Homo sapiens: one gene and its partner. The protein of the gene in region 2 interacts with the protein of the main gene of each other region in a pairwise test. Each region holds a gene or a part of one and is shown on either strand. Other genes may lie near its edges.

The links. The genes of interacting proteins can lie anywhere in the genome.
Region 1: the proteins of GAD2 (region 2) and RHEX interact in binary tests that used the Homo sapiens proteins (3 or more experiments, as listed by UniProt).

The regions. Positions count from the first base shown.
Region 1 is NC_000001.11:206,091,173-206,094,920, reverse strand, and holds part of RHEX (regulator of hemoglobinization and erythroid cell expansion protein), read right to left. Parts: intron 1-3,748. UniProt on the Homo sapiens protein: Acts as a signaling transduction factor of the EPO-EPOR signaling pathway promoting erythroid cell differentiation.
Region 2 is NC_000010.11:26,214,631-26,218,378, reverse strand, and holds the start of GAD2 (glutamate decarboxylase 2), read right to left. Parts: upstream 1,606-3,748; 5' UTR 1,570-1,605; coding exon 1,494-1,569; intron 770-1,493; coding exon 710-769; intron 538-709; coding exon 388-537; intron 1-387. UniProt on the Homo sapiens protein: Catalyzes the production of GABA.

The DNA of each region.
Region 1 (3,748 bases), on a different chromosome or scaffold from region 2:
TTCCATTATTTTAAGATTAATGCCTTATTTTGGCCCTTTATACAAAACTAGATTGCCTACACCATCTTCCACATTTTAATATATTCTGAGCATATACTCAGAGCGTACACTTTGGGATAGCGAGGTGGAAGGATCACCGAGGCCGGGAGTTTGAGAAGAGCCCGGTGACAGAGTAAGACCCTGTCTCCCTTACTAGCCAAATGACACACAGCAGCTCATCCAAATGAAAACAGTAAATAATACGGACGTCCAACATTCTTAAATACTAATTTCAGTTCAGTTCCCTTCTAGATGTTAATTATTGAATTCAGTGTCTCAGTTTAATAATTTCAGTATCTATAAAGTGAGAAGAATAATAGTTTCCTACTTCACAGAGTTCTTGCATGAGCTCAGTGATTTATGCTGTTTGTAAAGACCTTTATACAATTCCAGGCATATACGAGGCACTCAGTAATTATTAGGTATTATTCAACCCTAAAATCCTCCACCACGATGGTGACTAGAACTATTAAAAATTGGATTGGTCTATTTTAGAAAACTTAGGCATTTGTTTTGAGTACAGTTTGGAGATAAGATCCAAGGTATGAAAATTATGACAGATGTCATTATTTAAGTGGCTAATGGCCCCTAACCACAATGAGCAGGTTGTTCCTTGGGGTCTAATTGCAGACTGCTGATCAGACAATCAGCAGAGACATCTGCTCATTTGCGCGTGCACGTGACACACACACACACACACACACACACACACCAAATAACCAGGAAATGGGCAATTTAAGGTAATTATGTTGTGAAAAAGCGCATGGACTGTGTGAGGGTTTGGTGTGCCTCGTTCCATCCTCGAGGTAGGGACGGTTCTGTCCTCTTCCACTGTGCTGAATTTTGACATCCAGCCCCCACACTAATGTAGTGCCCTGCCAGGCACCTCAAAACCAAACTTTAGGCTGGGCACGGTGGCTCATGCTTGTAATCTCAGCACTTTGGGAGAGCGAGGTGGAAGAATCACTTGAGACCAGGAGTTTGAGAAGAGCCTGGGTGACAGAGTAAAACCCTGTCCCTCCTCCCCCGACCAAAAAAAACCCTACTTCGTCCCAGTGCTAAGAGCATTTATTTTGTTTGCTTCAGACTTGAGTTAAGGCTGGATTCCATTTTATTAAGTTTCCCTCCTCCACTGATACAGGAGCTTTCTCATGGCCTTTCCAATAGGTACAGCGTAATATCAGGGGGAGAATAAAAAGATGCCCACTTTCCTGCCATACACCATGCTTTCTTTGGATAGGTTTATTCTAGAAAGAACGGTTTAAAACAAGATCACAATAGAAGATGATTTCTATGAAAAATCATATGGATTAGGCTAGGCGCAGTAGCCCACACCTGTAATCCCAGCACTTTGGGAGGCCGAGGTGGGTGGATCATGAGGTCGGGAGTTCAAGACCAGCCTGGCCAAGATGGTGAAACCCCGTCTCTACTAAAAATACAAAAATTAGCCGGGCATGGTGGCAGGCACCTGTAATCCTAGCTACTCGAGAGGTTGAGGCAGAGAATTGCTTGAACCCAGGAAGCGGAGGTTGCAGTGAGCTGAGATCACGCCACTGTACTCCAGCCTGTGTGACAGAGCAAGACTCTGTCTGAAAAGGAAAAAAAAAAAAAGAAAAATCATATGGATCAAAGTAATTATAATCAACATTGTCAACTGACTTTATTAATCTTTTCAAATGAAGTAGCTGTAAACTTTCTTTGCTGTCTCCATTAATTTGTTGTTTTTAACATTAGCTAAGGTATAATGGAAAGAGAACAAAAAGAAGGGAGAACAAAAGAAGGGGAAAGAAGGGAGCTAGGGCCTGCCTTCTCCTGGCTCTGTCACTTGCTAACGGTGTGACTTTGGACAGGGAGATGTCCCCTCTAGGCCCTGGTGAATTAGGGAGCTTGGCAAAGTACTCCTAAGGCTCTTTTCAGCCCTGAGCATCCTGCTCTTTAAAGGCTGGGGTGAAGTAAGGCGAAAAGAAAGCAAAGCTGGATGGAAATGGAAAATTTAAAAATAAAAAAATCTTTATTTCCATTTTGTAACATTCAGCCTCCTCCACATTGCTAGACTTTCTCTCCCAGTTTAATATGCAGTTTCCAATAATCAAGAAAAGGAGGAAACACAAATAAACCAAATTAATAATATAGGGACTATTAATCTCAGAAACAGAAGGGATTAACATTTTTCAACAAAAATGGGGTACCAAAAAAAAGAAGAGGTTTTAAAAAAAGTTAGACTACAAAATTTTTTTTGATGAAATCTCAGTAAAATGGATAGTTTCCTAGAAAAGTATAAATTAACAAAATTGATTCCATATGGCACGGAAAGCTTAGACCAAAACCAAACCAAAATAACAAGAAATAAGTTTAGGAAGGAGCATGGTATCTAGCCACTAAAGACAAAGAACCTGGAGTCAGACTGCTTGGGTTCAAATCCCAGCTCATTCTCTGCATGAGCTTGGCCTGGCTATTTAACCTCTCAAAGCCTCAGTCTTTTAATATGTAAGATGGGAACAGTAACTAATTTCGGGACTAGATAAGACAAATATAAATGATAACTACTTCTGAGGATGAAATTAGATGAGCTATGTGAAATAGTTATTAGAACTTTTGGCACATAGTACTAAGCATCCAATGAATGCAAGCTATTATTATTTAGAAATTAAAAGCATTGGCTGAGCCCAGTGGCTCACACTTGTAATCCTAGCACTTTGGGAGGCTGAGGCAGTTGAATAGCTTGAGCCCAGGAGTTGGAGATCAGCCTGGGCAACAAGGCAAGACCCCATCTCTATTAAAAAGAAAAGAAAGAAAAGAAAGAAAGAAAGAGAGAGAAAGAGAGAGAGAGAAAGAGAGAAAGAAAGAGAAATAAATAAATAAATAAATTAGAAGCATTATCAGACTTACCTCCTCAATACCTGTCCAAATGGTTTGACAAATGAGGAGTTTCAAACTTTTAAGGAACACATAATTATTATTCTACAAGCCAATACAGGGCACAGGAAGACAGAAACTCTTGGGTTCATCTCATTTATGAATATGGAGGTATATATATATGGTAATATCAAGAAGTTAGCCCAGGATGTTGAGGAAATTGATTATTACAAAGATGGAAACAAACATTGGGTATTTTCCATGTGCTTTAATCCTCTCACTCTACAAAAATAGACATTACCACTACTTCATAGATGAGGAAACTAAGGCTTAGGAAGATTGAAAAATTTGCCACGTTGCCAGCTGGAAGACTCATGTTTCCTAAACCAACTGACTCAAAATCCTAAATCCCAATCATGTCAGGAAGCTGTCTTTTATATAATACAAATACAATATTGATAGGGCAAATTTTTAAAATTATGATCTTGGTAAAGTGCCAAAATGTACTGGATAAACTGAATACTTATTACTGATTTTTGAAGTTAATAAAAGTATGAGGATTTTTTCTTACTATAATAAAGAATAGTAAGTCAGTGCAGTATTGATTACTGCACCAATAATCAGTATCTGACAAAATGGTAAATTATTTTGCAGCTATTTGAGAGCAAGGGTGTATGCTGCAACCCTTATCCGAAATGAGTACTAGAAGTTATAATTTCTGGAAATGGAAAGTTCCTCCCATCTCTAATAATAATAAGGGTATTGAATATTTACTGAGCATGTTTTATGTGGCAGAAATTTTTATATACATTAACTCATCCAATTCTCACAACCACCCCAGGAGGTAGATACT
Region 2 (3,748 bases):
AAAAAAATGCAATTCTGAATTCTCGGGCACGGTATTTGGAAACTGAGTCCCACCCGAGGCCCCAGCGGCCTAGGGAAGCCAGCCGTCATCGATTCAGTGAGCGCACGAGCGCCTGGATCGTCGGCCACCCGCCATCCCAAGGGCCGCGCTGGGGGAAGAGCGCCACGGCCTCAGAGCCCTCTTGGAGCTCCGAGGCCAGGTTCGGGGGCTTGGACCCAGCGGGCAGGTCCCGCATTTCTCGCTTTTATCTGAAGATTCTGGCAGGTCCCGCCTCCGCTGCCACCTCGACGCCCCTGTCCGGCTCTCAGCGCCGGACCCGCACCGGCCGCGGTGGGCGGGGCAGAGAGAGGGGCAGGGGCGCCCCGGGGCTCCCCGCTGAGTCTTTACCTGTTGCATGGAGAAACGCGTAGTTGACATCCACTTTGGAGCAGCTGCAGGGCTTCTGGTCGCAGGCGCAGGCGGCCTTCCGGGCGGCGGCCCGCGGGGGTTGGCTCCCGCCGCTCTCCGCCGGCTTCTCGGCGTCTCCGTAGAGCAGGGCTGGGTAAGGACACCGAACGCGGGCCTCGTCAATCCTCCGCCGGGCCCGGCTCCCTCGCTCCCGCCTACCCGCAGCCAGGAAACCCCGACTCCGCTGACTGGGATGCGGAGGTGAGAAGACTGCTTGGACCCCGCGGGCCGACCTTGGCCGCCCCGGTCCCTGGGCACTCACCGCACAGTTTGTTTCCGATGCCGCCCGTGAACTTCTGAGCCACTTGGCACCAGGCTCGCGCTGCAAGGAAGAATAGGCAGGCAGACAGCGAGGCAGAAAGAGAACAACAGACGGACGTGTGAAATTTCGTTCTATGTGAAAATCAATCAGTCCGGGGTCCTAGGAGGGGCCGCCTTCCTCCTGGGGGCCGCTCAGGACTCGGTGAGGCCGGCAGGTGCAGAAGGCAAGCGGGAGGCTGGCGGCCCGGGCCAGCCCTCATTTCCTTTATCTGTTTCCCGAGGAGAAGCCCACACCGCTGCCCTTCCAGGTGCCAATCGGCTCAGGCAAATTCCTCTCCCTGCCTACCTTGGACGAGTTTTCCTAAACACTGAAGCTATCCATTTTTTCGCAGACTGTCTTTCTAGATAAAGAAATCTCTCACCTTTCCCATTTTTTTTTTCTATCTTCACGGTCACTCCGTCCCACCCCAGGGTCCAGACACCCGGATCTTAGCAGCGCCCCAGGACCACGGAATTCCATGTCCCCGAGACACCGCGGTCTTTGGGGGGCTCTTCCAACCTTCTGTGGAACGGGCCTGAGACTATTTGGGCGTCTTCCCAGGGTACAAGAGGCTGTAGAGGTCTTGAGCTCTTGGGCCGTCAAGGACTTAGCCCAAAAGCAGGGAGAAGCGCCCGAAGAAGTTTCCTGTTGCAGGTGGAAAAACCTCCTTCGTCTTCTCCGTAGTTCCGCAAACCCCAGACCACCGCAAAACTCGCCCGCCGCAGGCCCCCGTTCTCCTTCCTACCTGTGCCGGGATTCTCGGAATCCCCAGAGCCATCTTCCGACCCGAAAGACCAAAAGCCAGAGCCCGGAGATGCCATCGGCTTTGGAGACTGGAGCAGGTCGCCTGCGAGTGCGAGCTGCGGGCGAGCTGCCTCGGGCTTGGCCCTGCGCGCGCGTGCGTGCCCGTGTGGCGGGAGGAGGGCACCGCGCGGGGACCGGCGGGGCCGAGCGGCGAGGGCGGGTGTCACGCAGGAACAGAAAACGTGCGTGTCTGTGCGTGTGTGTATGCGAGCTGGAGACAGGGTTTAGGGACGTGGCAACCCTTTGGAAGCCGGGGAGCTTTAAAAGAGACCGGGACTACCTAAGGGTCCTCGGAGCCCGGACTCAGGAAAGCGCGGAGAGCCCCAGAGCATTTGAGGGAAAGGGAGCCCAGTGGGGATGAATGAGGGGGCGGCGGAGGAAAAAAACACGAGAGAGGGAGGGAGCTGAGTCGTGAGGATGCGAGGCAGACCATGCACGCCAGCTGGAGTCAGAGTGAGGGGGTGGGAGGCGTGCCAGCGCGTCCTCGGGCGAGCCAGAGGCGGGAAGTGCGGGCGGCCGCTGTCCCGGGTGCTGCCACAGCCGCTGCGCGCCAGCGTCAGCGAGGGGCAGACTGGGGAGACCTCGGCGAGGCGGGAAGCGTGGCCCAGAGGAGTTTTCTGTGTGCATCGATTGGGGTTTTGTTTGAGGTCTGGCTCCAGCTGAGGGGAAGGAAGCGGGGTTCCCGCGCCGTTTTCCTCCAAGCAGGTGCTGAGGTCACTGCGACCTCGAGAGCTCGCGCCCCGGGCGGGCATCAGGCGCCGTTCACGAGCCTGGGGAGGGGACGGCGGGGGAAGGGCTCCTACCCGCTGATGGGCTCATTTCAGCGCCTTGGTAGAACCTGACGCCTGCCTGCTGAACCGCGCCGTACCCGGGGGCGCACCGTTCCTGCGTAGCCAAGGGCTAGATCGCGGGACCCACCGTCCAGGCTCTGAGTGACGGCTGGGGAGAATGACTGCTGATTGAGGCAATTAAAATCCACGCTGGAGTCTACTGAGGACCTCGGGCTGGGGAAAAAAAAATAAAACGAATGGAAACTTCTTGGAAGAGAATGAGGCAGAGCGGCCAGAGTCGGCAGGATTGATGGCGGGTGGGGGATGGAATCAGGGCATTTGGTGACCTTGGCCCGCGGAGGCGTGGAAGCGCCCGCTGCTTGCGTGTAAGGGGGATCTGTGTGCGCCTGGGAGGGGAGAACAGGGTTTCCAACTAAGCAATCTCGGCTTTACAAATCCGAGTAGGAAAGAAGGCATCGCCTGCAGGGCCCTCGTTTTAAGGGGCTTCAAACCAATGCCCCCCCTCGCCCCCAGAGAATCTTCGCGGTAGCGGGTGACCCGGAAGCGCGAGATTGGTTCTCTCTGAGGCGTATTAGGAGGCGGTTTCTCTTTTTCTAATAAAGAAAGGAGGAGAAAGTCAGAATCGTTCTGATGATTTCCTTTCTACAAAAAGCTATTGCAGACAGGGAGGACGCCCTAAGGATTGGGAGCCCTTTGACAGTTTGCGCTGCGTTCTCCTGGCAGTGGAGATGAACTTCAAGTGCACCTCGGAGCTCCGGGGCTCTGGGGGAGACGGAGGGAGGGAGAGAGAGGAAAGGGCTGAGGTCGGCTTCCCGAGGCGGCTGCCTTCCCCGCGCCTGGCCAGAGCGCCTGTCATTTCCATTGTGTTCACAAGTCGTTTTATTTCTCTGACCTCCTGAACCAGCCACCAAAGCTGCTAACAAAGCAGAGACCCGGGGATCCCGTCTGGGCGAGCACCCCTCGACCCTCGCTTAGAAGGGACATCCTGGGGCCCATGCTGGACGCATACAGGCCCAAGTCCTGTGTGCTCGAGCATAACTGTCCCTGGTCAATTCTCTCCACAAAGCGCTGTCTTCTTCTCGCGTGCCTGAGTCCAGGGGTTCCCTGAGGAGTCATGGGATCCACACTATGGCAACTGGGCCCAGGCGCCAGGATGAGAGCAGGAAACCAGTCGGGCGTTGATAGCGTCCTGCCGAAGGCTGGCACTGAGCGTGCTAGGTGAAGTCTGTTCCAGGCTGTGGGAGCCCGGGTGGTCGAAAACTCAGGGCTCAGTTTGGCTCCTCTTTCTTGCTCTCCTGGCTCTGACACTCTAGGTCACCACAATAACAACTCCGGAAACCTAAAGACTTGTGGTTCAGCCATCTGCACTTCAGGCATGGCAGCTCCGCAGCTCTCTCCAGCCTCG